7 linked regions of the Homo sapiens genome follow. The protein of the gene in region 4 purifies or fractionates together with the protein of the main gene of each other region. This does not show direct contact. Each region holds a gene or a part of one and is shown on either strand. Other genes may lie near its edges.

Region 1 (3,595 bases), on a different chromosome or scaffold from region 4:
GTCATACTGTCTTCCACAGCAGCTGGGCCATTTTACTTTCCCACCAACAGTGCTCAAGGGTTCCAATTTCTCCACATCCTTGCCAACACTTGTTGGTTTTTATTTTTTGAAAATATTTCAGTTTAAGGATGAAGCTGTGGTAATGCTAGGATAGCCTATTACATTAGCAGCTCATCTATATAAGAAGAAAATTGTTGGGTTAATGAAGCACTAAATGAAATACTAAAGCCAGAAGCTTCAGCCTGAAATCATTCTTTTTGGGCTCTTCAGTAGCATCACTTCTTTCTACTCCACCAAACACTGAGAGGCGGGCTCATCTCAGGATCAGAGATGGAAAGGCCTCTTCTAGAGTTATTGGCCACTCCCTCTCTCCTAATGAGCAGAGCGGGCAGAGAGGCCGGGCACACTCTGACTTGTAGGTAACCAGTTTCCTCACATCCCTGCCCACACCACAGTTTTGGCTTTTCAACAATAAAGCTGTCTCTCTATCCTAGGACTCTCTTACGGGGAACAGTAAAACTGCAACATGATCACGTACCCAAAGAGTGCATTCCCAGCAAGATATATTAGCAGCTGTTGCCTCTTTACATGATCTCCTCTCTCCCTCATTCCCCTAGCTATGGAAAACTTTCCATCTGAGTCCTTAGGAAAAGATGGAGGGTGTGTGAAATGAGAGACCGAGACATGCTGCCATCTCAGAAGGGCTTTATTTCTACTTCATCACGGTCTCATACAGACCCAGAGGCATCATCATGTGTTTCCATTTGGTATCCTTGTGACTTTTTGTAGTGTTTTCCCTTAAGAAAACTTTGAGTAAACTCTGTACATTGCCAGTTAATCTTTTCACAATAATTTAAAAATGGTGTTGCTGTTGGATCATCGATGCAAGAAGACCAACAATAAAAGTACAGTACAAGGAAATTCACAACATATTACAGTGGAACAGACTGAGTCACATTTAGGTGATGGCGAGGACACAGTAGCGGTATATACATGCACCCGAAGACGTGCAAGCCAAGTAGGATAATATAAGGATCATACAGTGAATTTTCTAAGCCCACTGAGGACTTTGTACCTTTTCAAAATCATCCTGTATCCCCTCCAGCATACAGAATATCTGTCTTGTCTACTGGCTTCATGGCTTTTTCACTACAAAAAGTTCACTGAATCAGACAGTCTGAAGCATTAAAAAATTCGTAAAAAACAGTAACACTGACAAAATAAAATTAACTTAATCCACTCTAATTCAACATGGAAATAAACTGAACCAAAATGTAACAGTGCAAATTTAACAGAGGCAGTCAGGTATTGACAGCGAGGGTGTTCAGAATCTCTTAAAATGTACATTTTTTAAAACTTTTATTTTTTAAATCTATTTATACCTTATTTACCTTTTCGTTTAATATACTGTGTGTAAAAAAGATGGAGACAAAAATAGTTTTCTGAGCTATGAAAAAAATTAAGTTATTACAGGCACATTTACTGTTTCATTCTAGAAACATCTCAGTTTCACAGGTTGAACATTCAGCAGCTTTGTGTTTTTAAAAAACATTCTTTGACCTTGAGAAAACTAGATCTCTCCTGTTGGGCAGAGTTTTGTTCATGGTGATGGTGTGGTTATGCAAATTACAGTGAATTATACTGTGATAATCCATGCAAGCTTGCATCTCGGTGTGGCTGCTCCTCGGGCGGCTCCTCGCCACCATGCTCCTCCAAGGACGTCGGGTCTCCGGGTGACTGAGGCTGTGAGGCAGTGGGGGAATGTGGGGCCCAACGGGACGGAGGGCGACGGTTTGCTGGTCTCTCGGGCCTGGAGAAGCAGGGCTCTAGGGATGGAGCTAGTGCAGAACAAGGTAGTTCCTTCAGAGCCGAGAAAGGGAGACAGGGTTACTCAGACCGGCAGTGTCACCAGTGGATGATTCCCCCAAACACACTTCTCAACAGACTCAAGTGAGATGAAGTATACACCACAGGCAACTCGTGAATATTAACTACTTTCTATGCTCATGCAGAATAACTTAAAATAATAAAGAATTCAACACAAATGATCAGTGACATGAATGGGAAGAGACCAATTATGATTAAACACAGCAATACTGTGAGATGAGTCAGCTTGCAAAGCTCCTTTAGAATTGGGCTGGGGTATACAGAAGGCATGACACAGTGACTGTGGCAGCGGTCTCCACAGGCCACTTCATCATATTCCTATCTGGTAGATCTGTTCATTTGGCCCTTTTGTATGATCTATTTAGCTACAGTGGACAAGTGAACTGGTCCTACAGGGCCTGGATCTACTGGGAGCCCACAAAGAGACCTCTGATTTCATTCAGCTGTGTTAGCAATGGCAGTCGTCTTAAACGAACTCTGCTACTGTTTATTTGAAATTGACTGGGAGTAGCTTAAACAAACTCCCACAACATGGCAAAAATGCTGCAGGCAGAAATTTTAATTTGGGTCTGGTTTTCTTTAATGACTGTTCAATTGCAGCAGCATTTTAAAAAGGTAGAATCAGAATGTACTGGTGGTTTTGTGTTTCAGGCATCCTAATGTTCTGCGAGCAGGTGATGCAAGACACACTCAACCATGTGCAAATCACCTAGAATCCTTATTCTCAAGCTACTTTGTTTTTAAAGAATGTTGAGCTCCTTGTCCTTACATGTTACAAAACCAGGACACCCAAATTTGGAATTTGCTGATACACAGAAATGTAAAAAGCTGTGGCATGAGAAAACTGAGTTGCCCAGCATGGAGCCCGCTGGCTGGAATGACACTCAGACACTGGAAGCTTGAGGTGAACTGAATGGAAGGCACAGGAAGGATGACAGAGAACAAGGACCCTCAAAGAAAGGAAGTGAGTTGGAGGATTTAAAAAGATGTGACAAGCAACTGAAAAGACCAGGATGAGGACAGCCCAGCCAGTGGTGCAGGGGAGCAGCAGCGGGGGAAGGACAGACGGCTGCACGGAATGGGCAGTGTCACTCGGGAGAAGATGGAACACGGCAGAGACAGCATGGCCCGAGGACAGCGTGGGAGCCACAGGCTTCCAGAAGAGCAATGGGGCGAGCGGTTTCCCTGCCTCCCTCTGGGGTCAGCAGAAAAGGAACAGTGGCCCTGGAGACTATGCTTCATGCTCCCTGCTGCTTTTGTGGCTGGAACTTCATACGGCCACAGGGAGAAGCTTCTGTTCCCAAAGCATTATGCTAACAGTACCGTGACAACCAGAAATACCTCTCCAGTTAAAACTCCACCAGCGCCACCAGCCACCAAGATGCAGACTAACCCAAGGTGCTCCTGTGTCCTCATCTCACTGCAGCCCACAGTGCTTGACTGGGACACACGGTTTGGGAAATCTGTGTGTTTTGTGTCTGCGCTCCCCTTGTTATAGAAGTAGTGTGTGTGTTGTGTATTGTGTATCTGTTCTGTGTGTGTTGTGTGTTGGTGAAGCTGCTGTCATAGGTTTATCTGACACCACCGTATCCCGTTCCGCCTGGCTGGTGCTGAAGAGCAGGCTTTTTATGAGACCATTCAGTACCCCCTCTTTGCCAGCCTCTGCTTGTGAAGGAAGAATCACTGTGAGTCTGCATTCAAGGGAATC
Region 2 (4,886 bases), on a different chromosome or scaffold from region 4:
ACGCTCATTTTAAAGTTGGGAACTGCCTGTATAAGACATGGTCCCTACCCTGGAGGGATTCACAGTGACTAGATTTAAGGTAGACCAGTTAATAAATGCGAAACTACTGGAGAATAATCAATGGTCAGCTGTAGGATATTGGCTTTAAGTAAAATGGAAATTTATGCTAGGGTGGTATGTCGGTTCATTGAAATTCTCACATAGGACAGTATGACTGATCTATGCTAAGAATATACTTGGCTAGTAAGAGGAGGAAGAAGAAAACTCTAGTGATGGAAATCACCTGGAGCCAACGTTTGGCATCAGACATGAGCATGGACAGGATAGGCTGCAAGGAGGAATCAGGCATGATGGAAGCAAAATGGCTTTCTAAGAAGCAGTGGGAGATTGGAATGGCTAAAGTAAGATGGGGTCAAACATTTCCTGTAAATTAAAGACAGGAACATAAAACATATCACTTGAAATTTGTACACATTTCATGTGACTGAACACTTTGAGGCAATAAATCTTGACATACTTTTTCAGGGGCATGAGTTAATGTGGCTAAAGTTCAGATGAGGTGAGGATCAGATATTGGAAGAATGGGAATCCATATTAAGGACTTTGGATTTGATGAAAGAGTCCATTTATGGTGTTACTGGAAATATTTCACTAGGGCTGGAACATTGGCCTGCGGCTGGCACACAGGATGAAGGTGGAATAAGTCAGGGAGACCACTTAGGAAGCTGCTATGATAGGCCAAAGTGGGAAGCTGAGTACCTGGACCAAGATGGAAGCAGCAGATTGGAGAAAGAACACATCTGAAAGTCGCTGTGGAGATGGAAATGATAGGACTTAGAAATCACATGGGAAGAGCCAGAGAAAGTCCTTAGGTTTCTCCGGGTAACTTAAGCATAATAGGAACACTATTAGAAGTTCATGTTCCCATGAAAGTTCCTTACCTGTGGAGCCTCCCATGCCCTCCTGGTGAACCTCCATTTCTAAGGAAACCCTATAGCATTTACTGAGTATCTTAATTCTCCAAAAAATCAGACTTCTCCAAAGAAAGTCTTTAAGCATGTATTCACTAACTTGATTTTGCAAAATTACGTTAGCAAATACGTGCTATAAGGTTTCTAACCCGACAGACAAAAGCATGTAAATCATTTTACTGCTAGTTTTGGTGGAGGGTAGTGACAACTGCCAGTGTTTCAAAAAAGAGTAACATATCCAGAGTTTGTTCACACAGAAATGAATGCTTTTTAGCTTCATAACCCCTGTGCCCTTCCCGTGAGCCCCATCTCCCCAGGAAACGATATAGTACCAATTTACTAACTTAATTTGTAAAAGGAGGTTAGTGAATCAATTCTGTAAGACTCATGGAAATATTTGAAATTAATTAGCCTTGTCAGCTTTTATTTGCATAGGCTCTCTTCCAACCATATCCCCCAGCCCAAGTACAACGTTTTAGTAAGATTGATTTTAAACAATGAGACTTAGAGAATCTGTGTACAAGGAGCTTGAATAATTTAAATGCGTGGGTTTATTATTAACACAGTAGCAAATATATCAAGGAAACACGCCCCATGAAAAGTGTTTCAAAGAAACACAAATCTGTACTGAAAAAAGTCTATACGCAATAAGTAAGCCCAAAGAGGCATGTTTGCTTGGCGATGCCCAGCAGATAAGCCAGGCAAACCTCGGTGTGATCGAAGAAGCCAATTTGAGACTCAGCCTAGTCCAGGCAAGCTACTGGCACCTGCTGCTCTCAACTAACCTCCACACAATGGTGTTCGCATTTTGGAAGGTCTTTCTGATCCTAAGCTGCCTTGCAGGTAAGGAAAGGATCTCCAAACCACCAAATATAATTGGAAACAGAGTTTCCTTTTAAATAAAAATTCCACATTTTTACATAGAATTTTCATCTCCTGTACTTCAAATGAATTGTGATTAGTATGATGAGTTAATTTTCAGAACTCTTGCTTAGCAAACATATGCCATGCTGATATATTAGGGGTGTAAGCCCATAATATTATTGTTTTATGGAGCTTCTGAATGAAAATTTTCTCAGAAAAAAATATAGTTTATTACTTTACTTACTTTGAAAAGTGAAAAAAATGAATTTACTCAGAAACCAAACTTTGTGCTAGGGATAATTTTGTCTCTGTTTTACTTACTTTAGTGTTTCCTTTAAGCTCAGTGATTGACTTGCTCTAGCAGGCAGAGCCTGGGTTGGAGGGCCTGCCCTGGCTTACATATGGGAAGAACAGAAATTTACTGAGTACTTTACTGTCTAATATTTCTTAAGGAGTTGTGGTTTTCCAATCCTAAGACTGTATTTTGCAAAATATGTGAGTGATTTATGGTGCACAACATGGGTGATTTTAGGTATCTGAACAGAAGAAAATCAATTTTGGAATCAAAATACTGATGTTAGTTAGATCCAGGAGAGATCATTAATTCCAAAAATCCCTTGGGTAGTTTTCAAATATCAGATACATTTTGCATCTGTTCTTATAAGTTAGGTCCATAGTAAATACAATAATATTGTTTATCCAAAAACAGGATTTTCAAGCCATTAGTAATATTAGGCAGTGGTTAGAATGAGGTTTACTAGGCGTATTAATGACATAAGAAAATACCCACGATAAAATATTAAGTGAAAAAGCAGGATGCACACATATGCCTAGAATAAATTACTAGAAGGTTATATACCGAAGTGCTCATGGTGGTTGCCTCTGGGTGATGGGATTATAGATGATTTTAATTTTATTTCCCAGCTTTTCATACTTCCTGGGTTTTCTACGAAGAACATTATGCTATTTTTATAATTAGAAAAAAGTGTTACTTTTCAAAGTGATCTCATGTTTAGAAATAGTTCTTTAAATGTTCATTACTAAATGTTTAAGCATAGATGTTTTATGGAGTTAAACATCACCAGAAGGCAATACTCCATTTGTCCAGTGACCTAACTAGGCCCTAGAGCTGGAAACACATGTTCCTATTTTCCCTTCTCCCCAGGCATATTCATTTAAATGTAACTTTAGATATGGAAGTTTTGTCTCTTCTTAAAGGGTTTCCAGTCATTAGCCAGTTGGGTCGACCCCTGGGCCTTCTGCATCAGCCCTCTAAGATCATACCTGTTTCCCTATGTGAAGCCTTGCCCTGGCCCATACTAGGCACAGGGTTTGGAACGGTTGTTAAGAACAGTTTTTTTTTTTTTTAACTGTACCTAACATACAAGTAATTTTTACTGATTATAAATGTAATGCATGGTCATTGTAGAAAGGTTGGAAATATGGAAATTTAAAATAAAATAAAAATCATCTGCAATTTTACCACTCAGATTTGGGTGAATTATTATTCTTTTATTTGCAGGTGTATATATTACATTTTAAAAATTGGGTTTATTCCTTGTATACTTTTTTATTGTTTAAAAAAATTGTTTAGCATCATGTCAGGATTTTATTTTATTGTGACTTTTAGAACAAGACCAATAAATACTTCAGAGTGTGTTTCCTAAGTTACTATATAACTGATTTTGTTGGTATATAGTGTACACTATATATCTACACACATATTATCTAGTTGGCCCAAAGCAGTAGTGTCAGTACAGCAAATTGTGGTATGCTCTATTGTCGTTTGCTGTGCTTACATATGTATTGAAGTCAGAGAAAGGATCACTTTAGTAATCTACACCTGTCATTAGCAGTGTTCATCAGTTGATCTGGACAACTGATAGTGTTTCCATCAATGTGCAATTTGATGTTCTTCCTGGACTTGTTTTGGAGAGAATGTCACTTTTTGGTGTTAAGCGTGGTGCCTAACACATAGTGGATGCATAGTAAATGTTTGTTGAAAGAATGAATTACTTTCCCAAATTCCAAACATCCAGACATCATTTTCACATACATATTTAAAATTGATTTTGATATAACTAAACAGGTCAGATTTTGCTTAAATCAAAATATTTTCAATGACTTCTTAGGAATTCTTAGGTTAAATTCTAATTCAGGAAAACGAGTTTTAATCAAACTTCTGCAAAAAATTTATGCATATCATTTTAGGTATTTGAAATATGTATTAGTCACCTCTTAGAAAGATATGTTAATGTGGGTTTCATTTTCTGGAGGTATATGCTATGCATTTTAAAGGAGTAATATATTTGAACTTTGAGTTTGCACTCAAATCCAAAAAAGTGAGTGATCATTTGATTATATTATTTCCTAAGTCAAAATGAATCTATTATATATGAAGTTGCTGGAAATTAAATCACTTCAAATCTATCAGATTAAATATGAATATTTGGGGGATATTTTGCTGTGGTACATTAGGAGGATAATAATCCTTCTATAAGCAAAATGTTTGCCACCTTGTAGGCATTAAATGAATGAACAATCACCACCAAAATACAAGACATTCTCTCTCTCTCTCTCTCTCTCTCTCTATATATATATATATATACATATATATATACATATATATACACATATATATATACATATATATATACACATATATATATACACATATATATATATACACACATATATATATATACACATATATATATACACATATATATATATACACATATATATATATATATACACACACATATATATATATATATATATATATATATATATATATATATACACATATATATATTCTTTTGAGACGAAGTTAAGTCTTGTTGCCCAGGCTGGAGTGCAATGGCACGATCTCGGCCCACCGCAACTTCCGCCTTCCGGGTTCAAGTGATTCTACTGCCTCAGCCTCCTGAGTAGCTGGGATTACAGGCATGCACCACCACGCCCGGCTAATTTTGTATTTTTGGTAGAGACAGGGTTTCTCCATGTTGGTCAGGCTGGTCTTGAACTCCCAACCTCAGGCGACCCGCCCAC
Region 3 (4,233 bases), on a different chromosome or scaffold from region 4:
CCGCACAACTGGAAGTCACTAAGACAGTGAACCCCCGCACACCTGCAAGTCACTAAGACAGTGAACCCCCGCATACCTGCAAGTCACTGCTAAGACAGGGACCCCCCCGCAAGTCACTGCTAAGACAGTGAACCCCCCCACACACAACCGCAAGTCACTGCTAAGACAGTGAAACCCCCCGCACACCCGCAAGTCACTAAGACAGTGAACCCCCGCAAACCTGCAAGTCACTGCTAAGACAGGGAACCCCCGCAAGTCACTGCTAAGACAGTGAACCTCCCACACACACCCGCAAGTCACTGCTAAGACAGTGAAACCCCCTGCACACCCGCAAGTCACTAAGACAGTGAACCCCCTGCACACCCGCAAGTCACTAAGACAGTGAACCCCCGCACACTCGCAAGTCACTGATAAGACAGGGACCCCCCCCGCAAGTCACTGCTAAGACAGTGAACCCCCCACACACACCCGCAAGTCACTGATAAGACAGGGACCCCCCCCGCAAGTCACTGCTAAGACAGTGAACCCCACACACACACCCGCAAGTCACTGCTAAGTGAACCCCCTGCACACCCGCAAGTCACTAAGACAGTGAACCCCCCGCACACCCGCAAGTCACTAAGACAGTGAACCCCGCACACCCGCAAGTCACTAAGACAGTGAACCCCCACACACCCGAAAGTCACTAAGTGAACCCCCCCGCACACCCGCAAGTCACTAAGACAGTGAACCCCCCGCACACCCGCAAGTCACTAAGACAGTGAACCCCCCGCACACCCGCAAGTCACTAGTGAACCCCCCGCACACCCGCAAGTCACTAAGACAGTGAACCACCCGCACACCCACAAGTCACTAAGACAGTGAACCCCCCCGCACACCAAGTCACTAAGACAGTGAACCCCCGCACACCCACAAGTCACTGCTAAGACAGTGAACCCCCGCACACCCGCAAGTCACTAAGACAGTGAACCCCCGCACACCCGCAAGTCACTAAGACAGTGAACCCCCCCCACACATGCAAATCACTAAGACAGTGAACCCCCCGCACACCCGCAAGTCACTAAGACAGTGAACCCCCGCACACCCGCAAGTCACTGCTAAGACAGGGACCCCCCAAGTCACTGCTAAGACAGTGAACCCCCCCGCACACCCGCAAGTCACTGCTAAGACAGTGAAACCCCCTGCACACCCGCAAGTCACTGCTAAGACAGTGAACCCCCCCGCACACCCGCAAGTCACTGCTAAGACAGCGAACCCCCCTGCACACCCGCAAGTCACTGTTAAGACAGGGACCCCCTGCAAGTCACTGGTAAGGTGGTGAACCCCCTGCACACCCGCAAGTCACTGCTAAGAGAGTGACCCCTCTGCACACCAGCAAGTCACTGCTAAGACAGGGACCCCCCTGCACTGTGTTGCCACTCTGGAAAGAAAGATGGTCTCCTATCCCATCCCCAGTTGGGGTCCTCACTTGCTAGAGTACATATGTGTCATCCCCACACACATTTATATTTTGTATACAGATTTTTTTTGTTTTTTTTTGAGACAGAGTCTCACTCTATCGCCCAGGCTGGAGTGCAGTGGCACAATCTCAGCTTACTGCAACCTCCACCTCCAAGGTTCAAGCGATTCTCCTGCCTCAGCCTCCTGAGTGGTGGGATTAAAGGCATGCACCACCATGTCCGGCTAATTTTTGTATTTCTAGTAGAGATGGGGTTTCACTATGTTGGTCAGGCTGCTCTCGAACTCCTGACCTCGTGATCCGCCCTCCTCAGCCTCCCAAAGTGCTGGGATTACAGGTGTGAGCCACTGCGCCTGGCCAATAGTTACAGATTCTTAAAACAAAACCGTCTTGTATGTCTTAAACATGTTGTATGTCATTGCACCGTACGCATTCCTCCTGAATTTTCTTTGTGGATTATCTTTGTGAGATCCACCTAGGTGATCCATGTAGTTCTAATAATTGATTCTCACTGCTTTTCAGTATATGTTATGATAGAGAACAACTTACCTGTCCATTCCTCTAATGATGCACCTGTGGGCTGTCTCCAGTTGTTTGCTATTTCAGGTATCTGAGCACGTTTTCTTGTCTGAACATGCAAGAAGCTCCCAACCCGACTGAATGTCACCAAGGAGGTCACAAGAAGGGTACTGGGTAAGACCACTGGTCTCCACCCTCTCCCCCAAACCATCATCATTCTGATGGGCATGAAAGGACGTCCCTCTGGCTTTACTTGCTGATCACTAAGAAGGATGAGCATTTCTATTTATTTTTCCATTTCTGCGAAACCCCATTCATGGTTTTTGCTCTTTTCTGAGTTGTTTGCCACCTTCTTGTTGACAACTAATTCTGCACCTATTCTGGATACTTAATCTCTGTTCGTTATCCTTTTGTGGATTTTGTTTTCACTTTTAATTTCAATATAAAGAAGTTTAAAATTTAATGTAGTTGAATTTCTTAATGTTTTCCTTGGGCTTTTGGGGCCTTCTTAAAGAAGCCCTTGTTTCCAGAGCTCACAAAGATGTCTTAGGCTTAGAAACACTCAGAGCTTATTTATTTATTGTGTGGGGCTGGTGAGGGCTCTAATTTTTCTCCCCCAAACACAGATAACTAAGGCCGTCCAGGTGGCAGAGCTTCAGAGTTTGCACTGCTCTTCCCTGCAGGCTGCGTTCCTCTGCCTATCTGTCTCAGCCCCTTTCTGCAGGGCCAGGCTCCCTTTACAGCTCGCTCTACTGAGTTTCCTGTTGTGATACATTGTTTCCCATTTGAAAATGCCTTTATCACAAGCAGATTCTTGAACGAGCATCTACTTCAAGGCTTGATTCTAAGCTGGCGGTGGAGAGTAAGGAGTCACACTTGCTGGATCTGTCACACGGCTTCTGGCTCCCACTGTGGCCGTGGCAAAGCCGAGTCTCAGTCTCGGTGTCCGCTCTCAGAGGTAATTTGCGTTTTTTCCTTGGGTGCATTTAAGATATTCTCTTTGCGTTTGGTGTCCTGCAATTTCATTATGAGATGGATGGATGCTGTGCTCCCGATCCTGTGTATTCAGGCTTTCATAATTTAGAGAAAATTGCTGGCCACTGTCACTTTAAGCCTCACACCCCCAAACTTTGTTTAAACGTGTGCTGTGCCTCACCCTGGCCTCCACGGTTCCTAGTGTCTCTTGTTTTCTGTTTGGCTCTTTAGCCCGCATTTCTTCTGGTTTTCCTTTCCATCCACTAATACAAGATCTGTTTAGCCAAAATGGACCTGCTGCTAAACCCACACAGTTTCATCTGTCATACTTGTCATTTCTAGATGTTCTCTGACTCCTTTCCAGTCTCCACGTCATGTTTGGCGGTCATGTATCATACTTGTCATTTCTAGATGTTCTCTGACTCCTTTCCAGTCTCCACGTCATGTTTGGCGGTCATGTATCATACTTGTCATTTCTAGATGTTCTCTGACTCCTTTCCAGTCTCCACGTCATGTTTGGCGGTCATGTATCATACTTGTCATTTCTAGATGTTCTCTGACTCCTTTCCAGTCTCCACGTCATGTTTGGCGGTCATGTATCATACTTGTCATTTCTAGATGTTCTCTGACTCCTTTCCAGTCTCCACGTCATGTTTGGCGGTCATGTATCATACTTGTCATTTCTAGATGTTCCCTCTGATTCCTTTCCAGTCTCCAGGTCACGTTTAGCGGTCATGTGGCTCCTGGTTCAGGCTGTTTCCTTCCTCTAGTCTGTGAATATCTCAAGCATTCTTAGTTTATCTTCTTTAACTTAGGATCTCAACAGCTGCCTTCTCGGAGGTTCAGTTCTGCTGTGGTTCTGCTGACTTGCTCACGGTGGCTTTTCCTGTATGTGCTTGGTAATTTTCACCTGTGAGCTCATGTTTAGATGATTTTAATGTGACGAAATCCAGAGAGACCTGGGTGTGCTGGCAGCAGCTACCCAGCATGCGTGTTCTCACGGAGTTTGCCAATGCCATTCTCTCCACCTGGGCCACTTCTCAGGGCTGTGCTTCCAGCAAGCGGCCTTGAGGAATGAGGTCATGTCTCTTCTAGTCAAAGTGCAGGTGTGTTTACTGCCCGCTGTGAAAGCAGTGGGGTTCTCCAAGCTCAGTGTGCATCAGCCACGGCCTCAAGTGTCCACCCGTGGGGAACCCAGGCCAACGAGAGGCTCATGCTGCCAGCTGTGCCATGAGAACCCGGGAACCTCATGTCTTCAGTCAACATCCGTGAGATGCTAC
Region 4 (4,233 bases):
ACAGCTTTTTAGGTTACTTTATAGTCTGTCTGGTCCAGTAATGTGGAACACTAATTCAAATTAAAATTGGGAAGGATACTGTTTTGGAGACAATCCAGTAAGATAACAATGTGATGAATAATGTTGGAAAGGAATACCAGAATTACACTTATTTGTGTAACTGTATATTTATATATCCCTTAAAACTTAAAAAAAAACCCTGCAAGTTACTAGAGTGAGTAGGAAAATTCAGTATGTGGCCACATTAAAAAATACATATATAAAAATCAATACCTTTATAAAACATCAGTAAAAATCAGATGAATAATAAAAAGGTACTTTTCACAACAACAACTATAATGTGCATAAAGAATAAATTTGCAAGAAATACTTAAGACATATGGAGAAAAGCATAAAACTTTACTGAAGATCATAGAAGACTACAAATACAGTTATATGTCATTTAATGATGGGGATACGTTCTAAGAAATGTGTCATTAGGCAACTTCATCATTTAAATGTCACAGGGTGTACTTAAACCTAGATGGTATGGCCTACTACACACCTAGGCTGTATGGTGTAGCCTTTTGCTCCTAGGCTACAAACCTGTACAGGATGTTCTTGTACTGAATACCGTAGGCACTGTAGGCAGTTGTAACAATAGTATTTGTGTATCTAAACACGAAAGGTACAGTAAAAATATAGCATTATAATCTTATGGGATCACCATTTTTCTTTCTCTTGGAATCACATTTCTCTCTCTCTCTCTCTCTCTCAACATTTCTCTCTCTTTTTGATGAGGCCTCACTCTGTTGCCTAGGCTGGAGTGTAGTGACATGATCAGAGGTCATTGTAACCTTGAACTCCTAGGCTTATTGTAACCTTGAACTCCTAGGCTTAAATGATCCTCCTGCCTCAGCCTCCCAAGTAGCTGGGACTACGGGTGTATGCCACCACATCTGGCTAATTTTAATTTTTTACTTTTTGTAGAAACGAGGTCTTGCTCTGTTGCCCAGGCTGGTCTTAAAGTCCTGGCTTCAACCAATCCTCCTACCTTGGCCTCCCAAAGTGCTGGGATTACAGACATGAGCAACCATGCCCAGTTCCATTTTTATTTTTTAAGAGACAGTCCAGACTTGCATTGTCGGCCAGGCTGGGGTGCACTGGTGTGATCACAGTTCACTGCAACCCCCTAGGCTCAAGAGATCCCCCTACCCCAGCCTCCCAAGTAGCTGGGATTACAGTCCTGAGCCACCACGCCTGTCTGGGACTGACATTTTATATGTAGCCTGTTATTTTTATTTATTTATTTATTTTTGAGACAGAGTCTCGCTCTGTCACCCAGGCTGGAGTGCAGTGGCACGATCTCGGCTCACTGCAACCTCTGCCTCCCGGGTTCATGCTATTCTCCTGCCTCAGCCTCCTGAGTAGCTGGGACTACAGGCGCCCGCCACCAGGCTCAGCTAATTTTTTGTATTTTTAGTAGAGACGGGGTTTCACTGTGTTAGCCAGGATGGTCTCGATCTCCTGACCTCGTGATCTACCCGCCTCGGCCTCTCAAAGTGCTAGGATTACAGGCTTGAGCCACAGCGCCCGGCCCGTAGCCTGTTATTAAACGAAATGTCATTATGCAGCACATGACTGTAAATAAGTGAGGTGGTTCAATATTGTGCAGAGATATTTTTCCTGTACTTAATTTATAAGTAAATTTAATATAATTTCAATCAAATGCCAATTGAATTATTTTTTGGAACTAGAAACATTTATTCTAAAATCCATAAATATAAGCAAATAAGAATTGTTTTTTTGGTGGGGGGAGTTAATGGAACAGAACCTGTATTATGGATATCAGCAACTAAAACAAGATTATATTGGCAAAGAAATGGAGAGAAAAGATATATATGAGTATCTAGATATACTCATGTATATATGGATTTTAATATATGACAAAGGTGGCCTTTCAGTTCCATGGGAAACAGTGGTGGTACTGGGACAGGTAGCTCACTATTTAGAAAGGAAAAATGTAGCAGGCTCCTTTGGTTGGCAGACTTCTATGATGATCTCATGAGCTTGTTAACTGTCCTCACACCCTTGTGTAATCCCCTCTCCTTAAGTGTGAGCTGTCCTAGTGACTTGCTTCTAACGAACAGACTGTGGCAAAAGTGAAAGAATGTCACTTCATGAGTAAGATACAAAAGATTGTGACTTCTGTCTTACTAGTAGACTCGCTGTCTTGGCTTTGATGAAGTAAGGTGCCATGCTGGAGAAGCCTGGGTGACAAGGATCTGAGGGTGGGCTCTGGCCAACAGCCAGCCAGGAACTGAGGCTCTCAGTCCAACATAACTTGACAAACTGAATTCTGCCAACATACATGTGAACTTAGAAGCAGATCCTTCCCCATCTGACACTTTATATGAGACTCAACTTCTGGCCAACACTCCAACTGCAGCTTTGTAAGAGACCCTGAGCAGAGGGCCCACCTAAGCCATGACCAGATTCTGGATTCACAGCAACTAAGGCAACAAATGCTTGTCATTTTTCCTCCCAATGGAATGGTATTTTCCCAAAATCTTGCAGATCAGTTACAGCAAACAGAACTATGACCATCAAGGAAAACTGTCACTCTTGGCTTCTTTTTGACCACAGCAGCTACATGGAAGCAGCTGCAGCTTTGATAAAGGCCATAAATGCTTGCTATTTTAAGCCAATAAATTTTGTGATCATTTGATATGCGTAATTGAAAATGAATGCAGGCCAGGCATGGTGGCTCAGGCCTTTAATCCCAGCACTTTGGGAGGCCAAGGCAGGCTTGGGCCCAAGAGATCAATACCAGCCTGGGCATCATGGTGAAACCCCATCTCATCTTTACCAAAAATACAAAAAAATTAGCTGGGCATGGTGGTGCATGCCTGTAGTCCCAGCTACTTGGGAGGCTAAGGCAGGAGGATCACCTGAGCCTGGGAGGTCAGGGCTGCCGTCAGCCACAATCGTACTACTGCACTCCATCCTGGGTGATGTGGTGAGATCCTGTCTGAAAAAAAAAAAAACCCAAAACACAAACAAACAAACCCAAATGTAGTTCCTTACCCTCATCATACACAAATTTCAATGTCGGGCAGTATTGAATAACGAACACTGGGTTGACTAGTGGCCCCCAAAAAGATGTCAATGTGGGCCAGGTGCAGTGGCTTACAACTGTAATCCTAGCACTTTGGAAGGCCAAGGAAGGCACACTGCCTGATCTTAGGAGTTTGAGACCAGCCTGGGCAACATGATGAAACTCCATCTCTACTAAAAATACAAAAAAAAACCTAGCCGGGCGTGGTATCGGGCGCCTGTTATCTCAGCTACTCAGGAGGCTAAGGAACAAGAATTGCGTGAACCCAGGAGGTGGAGGTTGCAGTGAGCCGAGATGGTGCCACTGACTGCACTCCAGCCTGGGCAACAGAGTGAGTCTCTGTCTCAAAAAAATAAATAAAATATAAAATAAAATAAAAATAAAATAATAAAATAAAATATAAAATAAAATAAAAAAGAAAAATAAAAAAATTATTTTGGGGCTCAAGTTAGATTTTCTTGGAATAAGAACGGTGTTTTGTTTTGTTTTGCTTGTTTTATAAAAATGCAGCTTTGAGTGGAAGGAAAGGTTTACACTGCCAAAAAAATAAAAGTTTTGAAAGTCATGCCGACTCTTCATTTTTTTCCTCTTTACATGGAAACTTAGCTGTAATGAATATTTAGTTAATTCTTCCACTCTGCACTTTTTTCTTTTTAGACGGAGTCTCACTCTGTTGCCCAGGCTGGAGTGCAGTGCTGTGATCTCGGCTCACTGCAACCTCTGCCCTCCTGGGTTCAAGCCATTCTCCTGCCTCAAGCAATTCTGCCTCAGTCTCCCAAGTAGCTGGGATTACAGGTGCCCGCCATCACGCCCGGCTAATTTTTGTATTTTTAGTAGGGATGGGGTTTCATCATGTTGGCCAGGCTGGTCTTGAACTCCTGATCTCAGGTGATCTGCCTGCCTCAGCCTCCCAAAGTGCTGGGATTACAGGCTTGAGTAATAAACTAACAAAAGCTCTGAGCTACTTATAATTTGTAGAAAGCTTTGATAGGAATGCCTGCTTTCCAGAAAATTAGTATTAAGGCTTAAACCCAAGTAATATGGCCGTAATTTTGGTGCTGGAATGGCCTATGTTAGAAATTGCAAGATCTCTATATCGAGAGATCTTTATGAGTTGGAAAATATTTTCCTTTCTT
Region 5 (4,233 bases), on a different chromosome or scaffold from region 4:
AGGAAGCCAAATGGCATCAGACATTCAACAGCAACTCTTGCAGCCAAAAGATAATGAATGGAAGAAAGTCTTCAAAACTAACAAATTCTAAATCTTAAAAATTCTTTAAAAACTTACTTTTGAACTAGAATTATATATATTAAGTTGTGACCTTATAATAAAGACATATTTAGACAGGCAAGTTCTTAAAAAATATGTTTTCCATGGATCCTTTCTCAGAAGGCTACTAAAGGTTGTACACAACAAAAACAAGGAGGAAATTCTAACAGGAAAAACAAAGTATTTAAAACATCCTTGAAGTAGTTTGTGTTCCCACTTCTAGGGAAAAAAACTGTAACTCATTATTAAGATAGTAAAAAAGACCTAAACAGAGATAAAACATGCACAGGTGGGAAGACTCAATATCAAAGAGAGGTTAATTTTTCCAAAACTGATTTATAAATTCAATGAAATCTCTCCAAAAAAACACAGATTTTTTGTGGCACTCAACCAGGCTAACTGGAAAATGTACATAGAAGCCCTAAGGGCCAACAATACTACTAAACTATGTTGAAGAAGCAGCAGAAATTTATTTTAATTCTTTCCTAATTAAGACAGTGGGATACTGGTATAGGAATAGACAAATAGATCAATGAAGAGAACGGAGAATGCAGAAACAGACACATGCTACATAACAGGGCACTGCAGAGCAGTGGGGAATTATTTTTCTTCCCAGCAAATAGTTCTGGGACAATTGTGTATCCATATGGGGAAAAAAATGAAACTGGACCCCTACCTCATACCATTTACAAACATCTATTCTAGGTAGATTATAGATCTAATTGTTAAAGAAAAGCAAAATCATAAAGCTTTTAGAAGATAATATAGAAGATTATCTTCATGATCACACATTAGGAAGAAATGTCTTAAACATAACACAAAAAGCATCAACTGTAAAGGAAAAAACTAACAAATTGGACCATGTTAAAGAATTCATAAAAAGACACTACAGTGAGAATGAAAAGACAGGTCTCAGAATGAGACTATATTAGCAATAACTATCACCAGCAAATGGTTAAAATTCAAAACACATATATTGTACACACACACAATCAACATACAAACAAAGACTTCAAGAGAAAAATGGATAAGAGACTTGAACACAAAAGAAGAAATTCAAATTACCAAAAACATATTAAAAGAATTACTTTTAGTAATCTGTGAAAGGTGAATTAAATGCACAATGAGAAATGTAACACATTATCAGCCTGTCAAAACTTTAAAATTCTGACAATATTAAATGTTAGCAAAGATGCAGAGCAAGGAAATTTTTTTTTTTTTTTGAGACGGAGTCTTGCTCTTTCGCCCAGGCTGGAGTGCAGTGGTGCGATCCCGGCTCACTGCAAGCTCCTCCTCCCGGGTTCACGCCATTCTCCTGCCTCAGCCTCCCGAGTAGCTGGGACTACAGGCTCCTGCCACCACGCCCGGCTAATTTTTTGTATTTTTAGTAGAGACGGGGTTTCACCGTGTTAGCCAGGATGGTCTCGATCTCCTGACTTCGTGATCCGCCCGCCTCGGCCTCCCAAAGTGCTGGGAATACAGGCATGAGCCACCGCGCCTGGCAGGGCAAGGAAATTCTTCAACTGCTGGTGGGAATGTAAACTTGTATAATTAGTTTGGCATCATCTGGTAAAATTAAAGATACACTACCCTATAACCTAGCAATTCCATTCCTGGATTAACTCTTAGTGAAACTCATGTATATGTGCAACTACCGTTTTGTGTAAGAGCCAAAAACTGGAAGCAACCAATATATCCATTAATTGTACAATAGTAAATAATTGGTGATATCATCATATAATAGAATACAATGCTACAACGAAAAAGAACTACAGCTCTATGTGATAAAGATGAACCTCACAAACACAATACTGACTTTGAAAGAGGCAAGACACAAAAGAATATGTTCAATATGATTCCATTCATATAAAGTTCAAGTGCATACAAAACTAAATTTATAACATTTAGGGATATAATCCTAGATAGTAAATGATTAAGAAAAGCAAATAAATGAATAACTTAAAGATAGGATAGTGGTTTCCTTTAGGGAGAGAGAAGATATTAGATACAGAAAGGAGGCAAGAGGGATTCTCGGATGTTAGCAGAATTCCTTGACACTGACAGTTGTTAATAATAATTCACTTTATTATCTGCTAAATGTATATGTTTCCATACTTTTTAATACAAAGATTATATATTTTACTATTTTTTAAAAGGCACACAGCCATCAGTTGTCATATAAAAACTACTTTCATCCAGCACACAGCCAAGAGTTTAGTTTCAACTGGTTTAATAGATAAAATAGCTTTCTAGAAATGCAATTCAATTCATAATCTTATGTCATTCTTTTTTTTCTGTTAAAAACAAGAGAAATCCAGCAGGGGGTGAGGGGCAGTGGCTCATGCCTCTAATCCCAACACTTTGGGAGGCCAAGGCAGGCGGATCACCTGAGGTCAGGAAAGACCACCCTGGCAAACATGGTGAAACCCCGTCTCTACTAAAAATACAAAAAATTAGCCCGGCACGGTGGTGCGTGCCTGTAATCCCAACTACTCCGGAGGCTGAGGCAGGAGAATTGCTTGAACCTGGGAGGCGGAGGTTGCAGTGAGCCGAGATTGCGCCACAGCACTGCAGCCTGGGCGACAGAGAGGGACTCCATCTCAAAACAAAACAAAACACAAACAAAACAACAACAACAAAAAAAGAGAAACCCAAAGATAAAATATTGTGAAGGATATTACATATCTTCATTTATATGTCAAATAATACTATTTTTAAAAGAGAAAATAAATTTAAAGTAGTGAAGCTTTTTCAGGCAAGGAAGTAACTGTTAAATGTGTACAGTGCTGGACTGAGTGGAAGGAATACAACAAGTACACGATGGAAGAATGACTCAGACTAAATACACAACATGATTACCTATAGGTTACACATCCCAAATCTGAAAATCTAATCTGAAATGCTCCAAAATCTGAAACTTTCTGAGTGCTAACATGACATGATGTTCAAAGGAAATGATCACTAGAGCATTTTCAATTTCAGATGTTCAATAACTAAGTATAATGCAAATATTCCAAAATCCAAAAAATTCCAAAATCCAAAACACTTCTGGTCCCAAGCATTTGGGAAATGGGATACTCAACCTCATCTCTATTTACAATATAATCTTTGTAACAGTTACTAATTTCTGTAAGCAAATGATAGTTAGAATCAAGTTTATAAACAGTTTTCTACTACATACTACTACGTACTATGTTAAGGTTCCATAGCTTTTTCTTCCAAATATAAGGAAGTTTATAAATCCTCAATTTCTATGGAATCTTGAAAAACAAAAACTTTTAGAAAAAAGAGGCCATAAGAAGACAGATAAGTTTTAATTTCAAATTTTATTTTTTAAAAAACTCATACCCTACTCCTTAGAAGCAGAGAGTAGTGAAATGAAAAAAGAAAAAATAGTGCCAGCCCGTGCTCTTCAAATATCATACTAAAATACAGTCATCAAGATCACAGAAATTCTCCTTGACACAATTTTATAGTGCTCAAATAACTACATGAAATAAGACTCTTGTTCTTCAGAAATTTTTCAATTAATGTCTCAGTACAGGAAGATAGATCACATTTTGCAGAAAGTGTCATGAAAGAATAACACAGGGCTTTAGTATCTCCACACAGTCTGCCCATGCCATTAGAAACCAACAAAATGGTTTATTATCTTCTTGGTTCCTTTCCCTATCTCATCCCAAAGTTTGCATCTATGAGCTCTAAATGTAATAACAGTAATTTCTACCATTTACTGAGCCCTTTCCATGTGCCTTATATTATCTTTTTCAATCCTCACACTGAGGATGTCTTATGGATGAGCAAAGTTAGGCACAGGACAAATAAGAAACTTGCTCAAGGTCATATGCTGCTATTGAGTGAGAGAGCTAAGTTATATTCCAACTCCAGAGCCAGTGCTCTTACTACTAAGCTGTTTATATTCGATAAAACTTATTTACACCATGAAAACTGCCCATAATCACCTACCACCTTCTAACTACAAGATTCTAGGTGCCTTGAGCATTTATTTTTGCCTTTCCAGGCTAATTACATACTCACAGAACTTTAATGGGTGAAAGAATCTAAACTCCTAAGAAAGTTAATATTATGGCTAAGAAAACGGAGGTCCAGAGAAGTTAAGTGTTTTGTCCAGGA
Region 6 (4,233 bases), on a different chromosome or scaffold from region 4:
ATTAATAATGAAACACAAATACCTTTTTCTTTTTGAGACGGAGTCTCACTCTCTCACCCAGGCTAGAGTGCAGTGGCATGATCTTGGCTCACTGCAACCTCCGCCTCCCAGGTTCAAGCAGTTCTCCTGCCTCAGTCTCCTGAGTAGCTGGGATTACAGGTACGCGCCACCACGCCCAGCTAATTTTTGTATTTTTAGTAGAGACGGGGTTTCCCCATGTTGGTCAGCCTGGTCTCGAACTCCTGACCTCGTGATCCGCCCGCCTTGGCCTCCCAAAGTGCTGGGATTACAGGCATGAGCCATCGCGCCCAGTGAAATACAAATATCTTTAAAAGAAAACTTGTAATTTATCTTTTTCATTTCCAATCTCTGTCAGAGAGGTATTCTTTCATTTAAATATATCCAGTAAAGTTGAAGTGAAAAGTATTAAGGATTTTTTATTCCAATTAGCTTTGTCACTGACTGCTACACAAGCTTTGATGAATCAATATTGTCTAATAAATGAGAATAGGAAATTAATGAAAGCTTTTGGCAGCTTAGTTCCCAAACATTCTTCTAATTCCCCACTCACCTTACTCTATTTTAAAGTAAAATACTGTGGTAATCTAAAAATAGAATGTTAAGAGTAAAATCAATGTTATTCAGGCATGGGAAATCTGCTATTACAGTGACTTTGACAATATGCTCACTGCTGTCATGGGGATAGTAAAGTCAGTGTGACCACAATAAAGGAAAATCATCTTTGTATCTTAAGAAAAAATGTATTTTCACAAGAAAACAATTTATGTTTCGGTTATGCTTCATTAGTTTTTGTTTGAAATTCACTTTTAACAACGCTAAATCGAAGCTAGATTGGGCCTAGGGACAATGCCTGTCATCAGATGGCATGTTTCAACTAAAGTCCAATAAGATTAATGATCCTTGCCTAAGTACTATTGGTTTCCTACAGAGGAGTGACAATGTGCTCAGTGTTACAAGAAATAACTGAATCATAGGGAAATAAGACACACACCTCCCTTCAAGAAATTCTAATCTAACTATAGAGAAGACTAGAATCTTAGGCTTAAAAATCAATAGCCATCTCCCCAATCACCCCAGACCCTAACCTTGGACAAATAAAAATAAAGCAGGGAAAACACTTTAGGATTTCTCTTACTTTCTGGTAAAGCATGTATTCTTGGTCCCAGACTTCGAAAGTACACATGTTTCATGGCCTCTTCAGCTGAAACCCTTTTCTTAGATTCATACTGTGAAAAAGCAAAGAACTGCTTCATTAGCTTTTTCTCTAATTACTGCAAAAAGTAGGAGATGGGCAAATTAGCATTTAGAGCTACTTAAAAAAAATCTTGATTATTTAATATGATGACTATTTTTCAATCAACAATTTGGAATACTCCAGTTATACTCTAATTTGAGTCGCTGCTGAGATTGTGTAATAACATCTCAGTTCCACATTTCTAAGATAAGGCTGGATCTTAAACAAGAATTTACATTGCTTGTATTTTCTGAAGCAAAGAAAAATTAAAATATTTGACCTGTGTAGTTACTTCTCTTCATGAACACCAAAGGACTGGTGGACATATACCCAGTATTTTTATGGCAGTCATTCTTAACGACCTATCCAATACTCATTTCCCTTTTTTTTTTGATGATACAACCTAGGTTTGTTCAAGGTGTCCATCAACTCTGATAGATGAATCATGAATCATAACTGTTTTAAATTTTGGCTAATTATGACAATTCTGCTCCCCAATTCCCAGTCTTTCCTACAATTAATGTTCTGGCCAATAAGACTTGGAAAGAAACCTTGTAGGGGTTTCTGTAAAGCTTTTGCTTCCAAGTTTCAAGAGGACTAATGTGGCTGGTACTACCCTTATCGTCCCCCCTTATTCCTGCTTTGGAGGGAAATATGAATGGCATTTGGAGGCAGAGCATCCTCCAAAGGCTGTACGTATAAGGAAAAGAGAACATAAGAGAGCATAGAGAGCATCAATTGCAGAGAATGTGGCCTTGACACAGCTGATCAATGCCAGTAACCAACTACCTCAGACTGTTGTAGGTGACAAGAGACCCAGACACATTAGGAGAAACCATGTTTTTTTTTTTTTTTTTAACTTAAACATGTGCCTTAAGCATAGATAATTTTATTTGTCATTAACAATACCGAGGAAGTACTACTGAGCCCATTCTACACATGAAGAAGCTGAGGCTTAACAACCTATTTAACAATTACTGTAAGAACTGACTTACCTGAAGAAATTTTGTTATCAACTCAATTCCTTCAGAGTCTAACCTAGAAACAACAAAGAACAAGTAAAAATTTATGCTCTCTTAGCTGATAAAACTTTTCAGATAAAACTATTTTCTAAGTGTTTTAATCTGCTAAATTTAAATGCCCTAAAATAGTCACTCTTGTTGTCTTCAAATAGACACAAATCTGTTTTAGTCTTAAAAGACTGGCCTTGCTATTTGTTTAAGGATAAGCCATAAATAACTTGGCTTCAATTTGAATTTTCAATATCCAAGAACAAATTAAAGAATTTTAAAAATCACCATGCTGTCTCAAAACAAAGAAACTTCAATATTAAGAAAGCTTACATATTGTATCACTTTTCGCAGTCTTTCACTAAACGCAAGTATATAAGAGCATCATTTTCCTATTATATAGGTGAAAACAGAGACAAGTGACCCCAAAATGTATCACTGTTGTTCAAGACAAACACAGAAATGAGCTATTCAGCAAATTTTTAGAGTTGTCTGCTTAGCACCGGGTACTAGAAGGTATTGAGTTCAATTTAAATATGCTACAATAACTTCATAAAACTTCATCAATGGTGGCCAGGTGCAGTGGCTCACGCCTGTAATCCCAGCACTTTGGGAGGCCGAGGCGGGTGGATCACGAGGTCAGGAGATCGAGACCATCCTGGCTAACATAGTGAAACCCCGTCTCTACTAAAAATTAGCCAGGCGCAGGGGCAGGCGCCTGTAGTCCCAGCTACTCGGGAGGCTGAGGCAGGAGAATGGCGTGAACCCGGGAGGTGGGGCTTGCAGTGACCTGAGATAGCACCACTGCAGTCTGGCCTGGGCGGAAGAGCGAGACTCTGTCTCCCAAAAAAAAAAAAAAAAAAAAAATTCATCAATAAGGGATATAAAACTAATGACATAATAAAGATGAAATTAGTATAACTAGGGGTAGTAGGGTTAGGGATTATCTTTTTTTTTTTTTTGAGATGGTGTTTCGCTCTTGTTGCCTAGGCTGGAGTGCAAAGGTGCGATCCCGGCTCACTGCAACCTCTCTACCTCCTGGGTTCACGTGATTCTCCTGCCTCAGCCTCCCGAGTAGCTAGGATTACAGGCATGCACCACCACGTCCGGCTAATTTTTTGTATTTTTAGTAGACAGGGTTTCTCCATGTTGGTCAGGCTGGTCTCAAACTCCCAACCTCAGGTGATCCGCCTGCCTTGGCCCCCCTAAAGTGCTGGGATTACAGGCGTGAATCACCGTGCCCGGCCTGGGATTATCTTAATGGAATAATCTCTTGATCAGAAATAACAGGTTCTATCTTACACTGCCTTTCACTGGTAGAAGTACAATTATGAATAAGGTAACGTTTTTTTCCAAGTGCTCTCAAGTGGGTCCTGTGGATGCTGCAGTCTAGACATTCTATGTAGTTTGCCATTCTAGCACATATCCAGAGTTCCCTGGGCACAAACTAGGCACTAAGTCATGGAGACTCTGCTTCAAAGAAAAGCTTCAACCTTCTACACTGAACATTACCAAAAAATAATTAAAGGACAAAAATAGAATTTATGCTACTTGGGAGAGACATGCAAAAAAAGCCCAGCAAGTATTATTATTCTTCCTAAGAAAATCTAGTTAGAATGGTATTAGTTGCTATAGTAACAATAAGAGTACCAACTCACATAAATACTTTAAAAATATTTTTGGTGTCATAACTGTTTTGCTCTTCCTTCCTTAGCTTGAAAATAAAAGGAAGCATAACAAGTGTGTTATGTTGTGAGCAATGTGAATGGCTTTGGGTTAAAATAAATGATGTCCTTATTTGGTATCTTGGTGACTTTCAAAATTTGGGGGGGTTGGGGGCAGGGAGATGGAAAATGCAGTCAAAGGGGTTATTCTATGTTATCTCCTGAAAATGTAATACATTCTACAAGTAAAAATGTTCTGACTCAAATTTTATTGGGAGCCTTGGATTGATCTTGGGGTAGGTCT
Region 7 (4,233 bases), about 56 Mb from region 4:
CCAGGTTCATGCCATTCTCCTACCTCACTCTCCTGAGTAGCTGGGACTACAGGCACCCGCCACCACCCCCGACTAATTTTTTTTTTGTATTTTTTAGTAGAGACGGGGTTTCACCGTGTTAGCCAGGATGGTCTCAATCTCCTGACCTCGTGATCCGCCCACCTCGGCCTCCCAAAGTGCTGGGATTACAGGCGTGAGCCACCGCGCCCGGCCAATCTACTTCCTTTTTTAAGGAAGAAGATTTTTGTGGTCTTTTAGTATAGCAGTTAAATCATACCCTAACTAATATAAGGCCTTACAGTGAAAAAGTAAGTTACTCACCCAACCTTGGTCTTCCATATTATTTTTACACACATGGTAGTATACACTTTACATTGTTTTAAACCTTGCTTTTTTCACTTAATATGTTTCAGTTGTGGATCTACACCAGCCCTCATAGAGCCATCTCATCTTTTTAACAGTTGCATAATATTCCATTGTGTGAATGTATTATAAATTACTAAGGAGCTCCTTGTGGGTGGACTTACTCTTAATTCGCCGCAGGTAAGCCTCATCCTCTGTCTCAATCAGGGGGAAGTCCTCCCTGGATGGGCATCTGGAGGGGTAACAGGTCGCATGCCATTGAGAGACAGAAGCTAGGTTATAGACCAGAATCAGCCTTCCCTCCTTCCCAAACATGCCTTATGCTTCCATCTTCTGATAAGACTCCTCAGCCTCACACCCTAGCTTTAATTTAGTCCTGACCTTCTCCCTTTTCTTTCTTTTTTTTTTGAGACGGAGTCTTACTCTGTCACCCAGGCTGGAGTGCAAGGGCGCTATCTCAGCTCACTACAACCTCCTCCTGGGTTCAAGTGATTCACTTGTCTCAGCCTCCTGAGTAGCTAGGATTACAGGCACGCACCACCATGCCTGGCTAATTTTTGTATTTTTAGTAGACATGGGGTTTCGTCACGTTGGCCAGGCTGGTCTCAAACTCCTGACCTCAGGTGATCCTCCGCCTCCCAAAGTGCTGGGATTACAGGCATGAGCCACCGCGCCCGGCCGACCTTCTCCCATTTCTTAGCACTGATTATCTGCGTTTACTGAGATATATCTCTCCAAAGGTCGCTTGGAAAGGCAGCACAGTGCAGAGGGTCAAGTACAGGCTTTGGCATCAAGCAAACAGGATGCAAATCCTGGCTCCACTGTTTACCAGGTGGTAACCTCTCTATTTCCTCATTTGAAAAATGAAGGTAATATCTTCCTCATAGGTTTTTCATTAGGATTAAATGAAATGTTAAAGTGCTTTGAACATAACAGAAGCTCAACAAATCAATTACAATTAATATTATTAATTTCCACAATTATAATTTTTTTTTTGAGAGAGAGTCTTGCACTTTCGCCCAGGCTGGAGTCCAGTGACAGGATCTTGGCTCACTGCAACCTCTGCCTCCCAGGTTCAGGTGATTCTCCTGCCTCAGTCTCCCAAGCAGCTGGGACTACAGGCACGCACCACCATGCCTGGCTAAGTTTTATATTTTTAGTAGAGACAGGGTTTCGCCATGTTGGCCAGGCTGGTCTCGAACTCCAGTGGTCCGCCTGTCTCAGCCTCCCAAAGTGCTGGGATTCCAGGTGTGAGCCACAGCGCCTGGCCACAATTATAAATATTAATACTATTAATAAAGAAGCCACTACAGATCTGTCAACAGGACAGGTTATTTTGAACTGCTTTCTTGGAATAGGCAATTTCATAATTTTTTTTTGGAGATGGAGTCTCACTCTGTCACCTAGGCTGGAGTGCAGTGGCACAATCCTGACTCACTGCAACCTCCACCCCCGGGTTCAAGCGATTCTCCTGCCTCAGCTTCCCGCGTAACTGGGATTACAAGCTTATGCCACCACGCCCGGCTAATTTTTGTATTTTTAGTAGAGACGAGGTTTCACCATATTGGCCGGGCTGGTCTTGAACTCCTGACCTCAAGTGATCTACCCGCCTCAGCCTCTCAAAGTGCCGGGATTACAGGCGTGAGCCACTGTGCCTGGCCTGCAATTTCATACTTTTATATGCATTTCTAAAAACCTTTTCAAAATTCCATGGTGCAGAAGTTAAAAAAAAAAAAAGGTTTACAAATTATAAAGTTGAGAACTGATTCCCTGAAAGCTAAAGAAAAATTATAAAAATCTTGGCTGGGCATGGTGGCTAATGCCTGTAATCTCAGCTCTTTTGGAGGCTGAGGTGGGCGGATAAATCTGAGATCAGGAGTTCGAGACCAGCTTGGTCAACATGGCAAAACCCCGTCTCCACTAAAAATACAAAAATTTGGCTGGGTGCAGTGGCTCATGCCTGTAATCCCAGGACTTTGGGAGGCTGAGGCGGGTCGATTACGAGGTCAAGATATCAAGACCATCCTGGCCAACATGGTAAAACCCCGTCTCTACTAAAAATACAAAAATTAGCTGGGCATGGTGGCGTGAGCCTGTAGTCCCAGCTACTCAGGAGGCTGAGGCAGCCCGGCAACAGAGACTCTGTCTCCAAAAAAAAAAAAAAAAAAAAAAAATTTGCCTGGGGTCGTGGTGGGCACCTGTAGTCCCAGCTATTTGGGAGGCTGAGGCAGGAGAATCGCTTGAATCCAGGAGGTGGAGGTTGCAGTGAGCTGAGAGCGAGACTCTGTCTCAAAAAAAATTAAAAAAAAAAAAGAAAGAAAACCTGTAAAAATCTGAATTAGAATTACACTTACACTTCATTCTTTAGGCATAATCTTCCAGAATCCATTTTAAACATCTTACCTGTGCTTTATTTGATGTTTTTTCCCATCACAATTAGACACATAGTTGACTGCCTCAAATCTAATGTGTGTCCAATAGAAGCTAAAGATTTGCTGCTTTGACACACTGATTTCCTTCTTGCTTCTATTGTGTTGAGTCTGTTTATGAGACTTGTTCCTCTCTAGTATCGATGCTTTCATTATCCTCTTTTTCATTCATTTTTAGAAAAATAAATGTAAAATACAATACAATCCAAATAACAGCCCTCTGCCTACAGATGAACATGTGAATGCAGCTGAAATTGTACTGTTGGCTGGCAGGTATGCCACCATGTGACAGCTCAAAGTATTCCCTTGCTTGTCAGCTCATGCTGAATTTGAAAGGGAGTTGAGGTTGGCAATGTATAAAATGTGGCTTTACAGGACATAAGAACATAGGTGACCTTTCCAGTCTTGGGCCATTTTGTCTCTCCCTCAACCTCTTCCCCCACCTCTGAATGCTGGATTCTGTTCCCAGGGAGTTCTATGGTTGGGATCTAATGCTGCAGGTACCCTGAGGTCATAAGCACATGCAGGCGGCAGGCAGACACTCACGTGCGCACGCTCTGCTGAATGACCCGGATCCAGGTGCTCCGGTCATCCCGGGATGCTGTGTGCACCTCGTACATCTCAGGTGGGGCTGCGCTGATCAGAAACATCCCTTTCTCCTGGTTGGCAATGTCTCGTACGATTAGATTCTGCAGCGATACCACTGAAGGCTTGTCCTGCCAGTCAGGGGAAAGGAAGGATTAAGCCTGGGAATCCTGTCCCTTGGCATATTTAGGCCTTCAATCCTTCTGGACGAGGACTGAAAGGACTGAAGAGTCATCTTACAATACCAGTTAAGAGCCAGGCACTGGTGCCAGCCAGAAGGGACTTAGAAATGTGTGCAACCCTTGACAAATTATTTAACTGACTTGAAGCTTTACTTTCATCATCTATAAAATGAGGACGAAAATAATCTTTTCCCACAGGTGTAAAAGTGCCTGTGCACAGTAACAGTACCTGTGAGCTGCTCTTATTTTTTATTATTACGGTAATAGTAACAATTATAGCTGTTTGACTCTGGGGGACTCCAGAGCTCTCGTGGGCTTGGGCAGGAAAGCAAGAAGAGACTAAAACACTTGTCTGTGCTGAGAAAGGTGAAGAATGAATGTCTCACCAGGGTAGGAAAGATGTACTTCTGGTCCTTTTCCTGGAGAAACACCAGTACATCTGTCATCAGCAGCACTAGCACATCTGGAAGGGGATGAAGGTGGGAGAACAGTCAGCACTAGACGGTCTGAGCAGCTGCTTCCCTCTTTCCCAAGGACCAGGCTTATCCCATCAGGTTAGAGCTCCCAGTTTCCCTCTTCCTGGCCTCTCTTCCCTCTGGCTGCTTGCACTTTTTCAGACCTCTCACACCTCACCCATTCTATTTTTTTTTTTTTTTTTTGATACAGAGTTTTCA

The links.
Region 1: the proteins of PPP2R5A (region 4) and MTCL1 purify together in Homo sapiens (affinity purification with mass spectrometry; one large-scale study listed by BioGRID and IntAct). This does not show direct contact.
Region 2: the proteins of PPP2R5A (region 4) and VSIG1 purify together in Homo sapiens (co-immunoprecipitation; one large-scale study listed by IntAct). This does not show direct contact.
Region 3: the proteins of PPP2R5A (region 4) and PPP2R2D purify together in Homo sapiens (affinity purification with western blotting; one study listed by BioGRID). This does not show direct contact.
Region 5: the proteins of PPP2R5A (region 4) and SLK fractionate together in Homo sapiens (co-fractionation; one large-scale study listed by BioGRID). This does not show direct contact.
Region 6: the proteins of PPP2R5A (region 4) and CDK17 purify together in Homo sapiens (affinity purification with mass spectrometry; one large-scale study listed by BioGRID and IntAct). This does not show direct contact.
Region 7: the proteins of PPP2R5A (region 4) and ARHGEF2 purify together in Homo sapiens (co-immunoprecipitation; 2 studies listed by BioGRID and IntAct, with this or other methods). This does not show direct contact.

The regions. Positions count from the first base shown.
Region 1 is NC_000018.10:8,829,872-8,833,466, reverse strand, and holds the end of MTCL1 (microtubule cross-linking factor 1), read right to left. Parts: intron 1,861-3,595; coding exon 1,627-1,860; 3' UTR 689-1,626; downstream 1-688. UniProt on the Homo sapiens protein: Microtubule-associated factor involved in the late phase of epithelial polarization and microtubule dynamics regulation.
Region 2 is NC_000023.11:108,043,366-108,048,251, forward strand, and holds the start of VSIG1 (V-set and immunoglobulin domain-containing protein 1 isoform 2 precursor), read left to right. Parts: upstream 1-1,699; 5' UTR 1,700-1,765; coding exon 1,766-1,814; intron 1,815-4,886.
Region 3 is NC_000010.11:131,949,126-131,953,358, reverse strand, and holds part of PPP2R2D (serine/threonine-protein phosphatase 2A 55 kDa regulatory subunit B delta isoform), read right to left. Parts: coding exon of another isoform or gene 4,213-4,233; exon of another isoform or gene 2,955-4,212; intron 1-2,954. UniProt on the Homo sapiens protein: Substrate-recognition subunit of protein phosphatase 2A (PP2A) that plays a key role in cell cycle by controlling mitosis entry and exit. Involved in chromosome clustering during late mitosis by mediating dephosphorylation of MKI67.
Region 4 is NC_000001.11:212,351,248-212,355,480, reverse strand, and holds part of PPP2R5A (serine/threonine-protein phosphatase 2A 56 kDa regulatory subunit alpha isoform), read right to left. Parts: intron 2,664-4,233; exon of another isoform or gene 2,531-2,663; intron 1-2,530. UniProt on the Homo sapiens protein: The B regulatory subunit might modulate substrate selectivity and catalytic activity, and might also direct the localization of the catalytic enzyme to a particular subcellular compartment.
Region 5 is NC_000010.11:103,969,761-103,973,993, reverse strand, and holds part of SLK (STE20-like serine/threonine-protein kinase), read right to left. Parts: intron 1-4,233. UniProt on the Homo sapiens protein: Mediates apoptosis and actin stress fiber dissolution.
Region 6 is NC_000012.12:96,281,353-96,285,585, forward strand, and holds part of CDK17 (cyclin-dependent kinase 17), read right to left. Parts: intron 2,294-4,233; coding exon 2,251-2,293; intron 1,248-2,250; coding exon 1,157-1,247; intron 1-1,156. UniProt on the Homo sapiens protein: May play a role in terminally differentiated neurons. Has a Ser/Thr-phosphorylating activity for histone H1.
Region 7 is NC_000001.11:155,954,375-155,958,607, forward strand, and holds part of ARHGEF2 (rho guanine nucleotide exchange factor 2), read right to left. Parts: intron 4,023-4,233; coding exon 3,946-4,022; intron 3,509-3,945; coding exon 3,339-3,508; intron 596-3,338; coding exon 528-595; intron 1-527. UniProt on the Homo sapiens protein: Activates Rho-GTPases by promoting the exchange of GDP for GTP.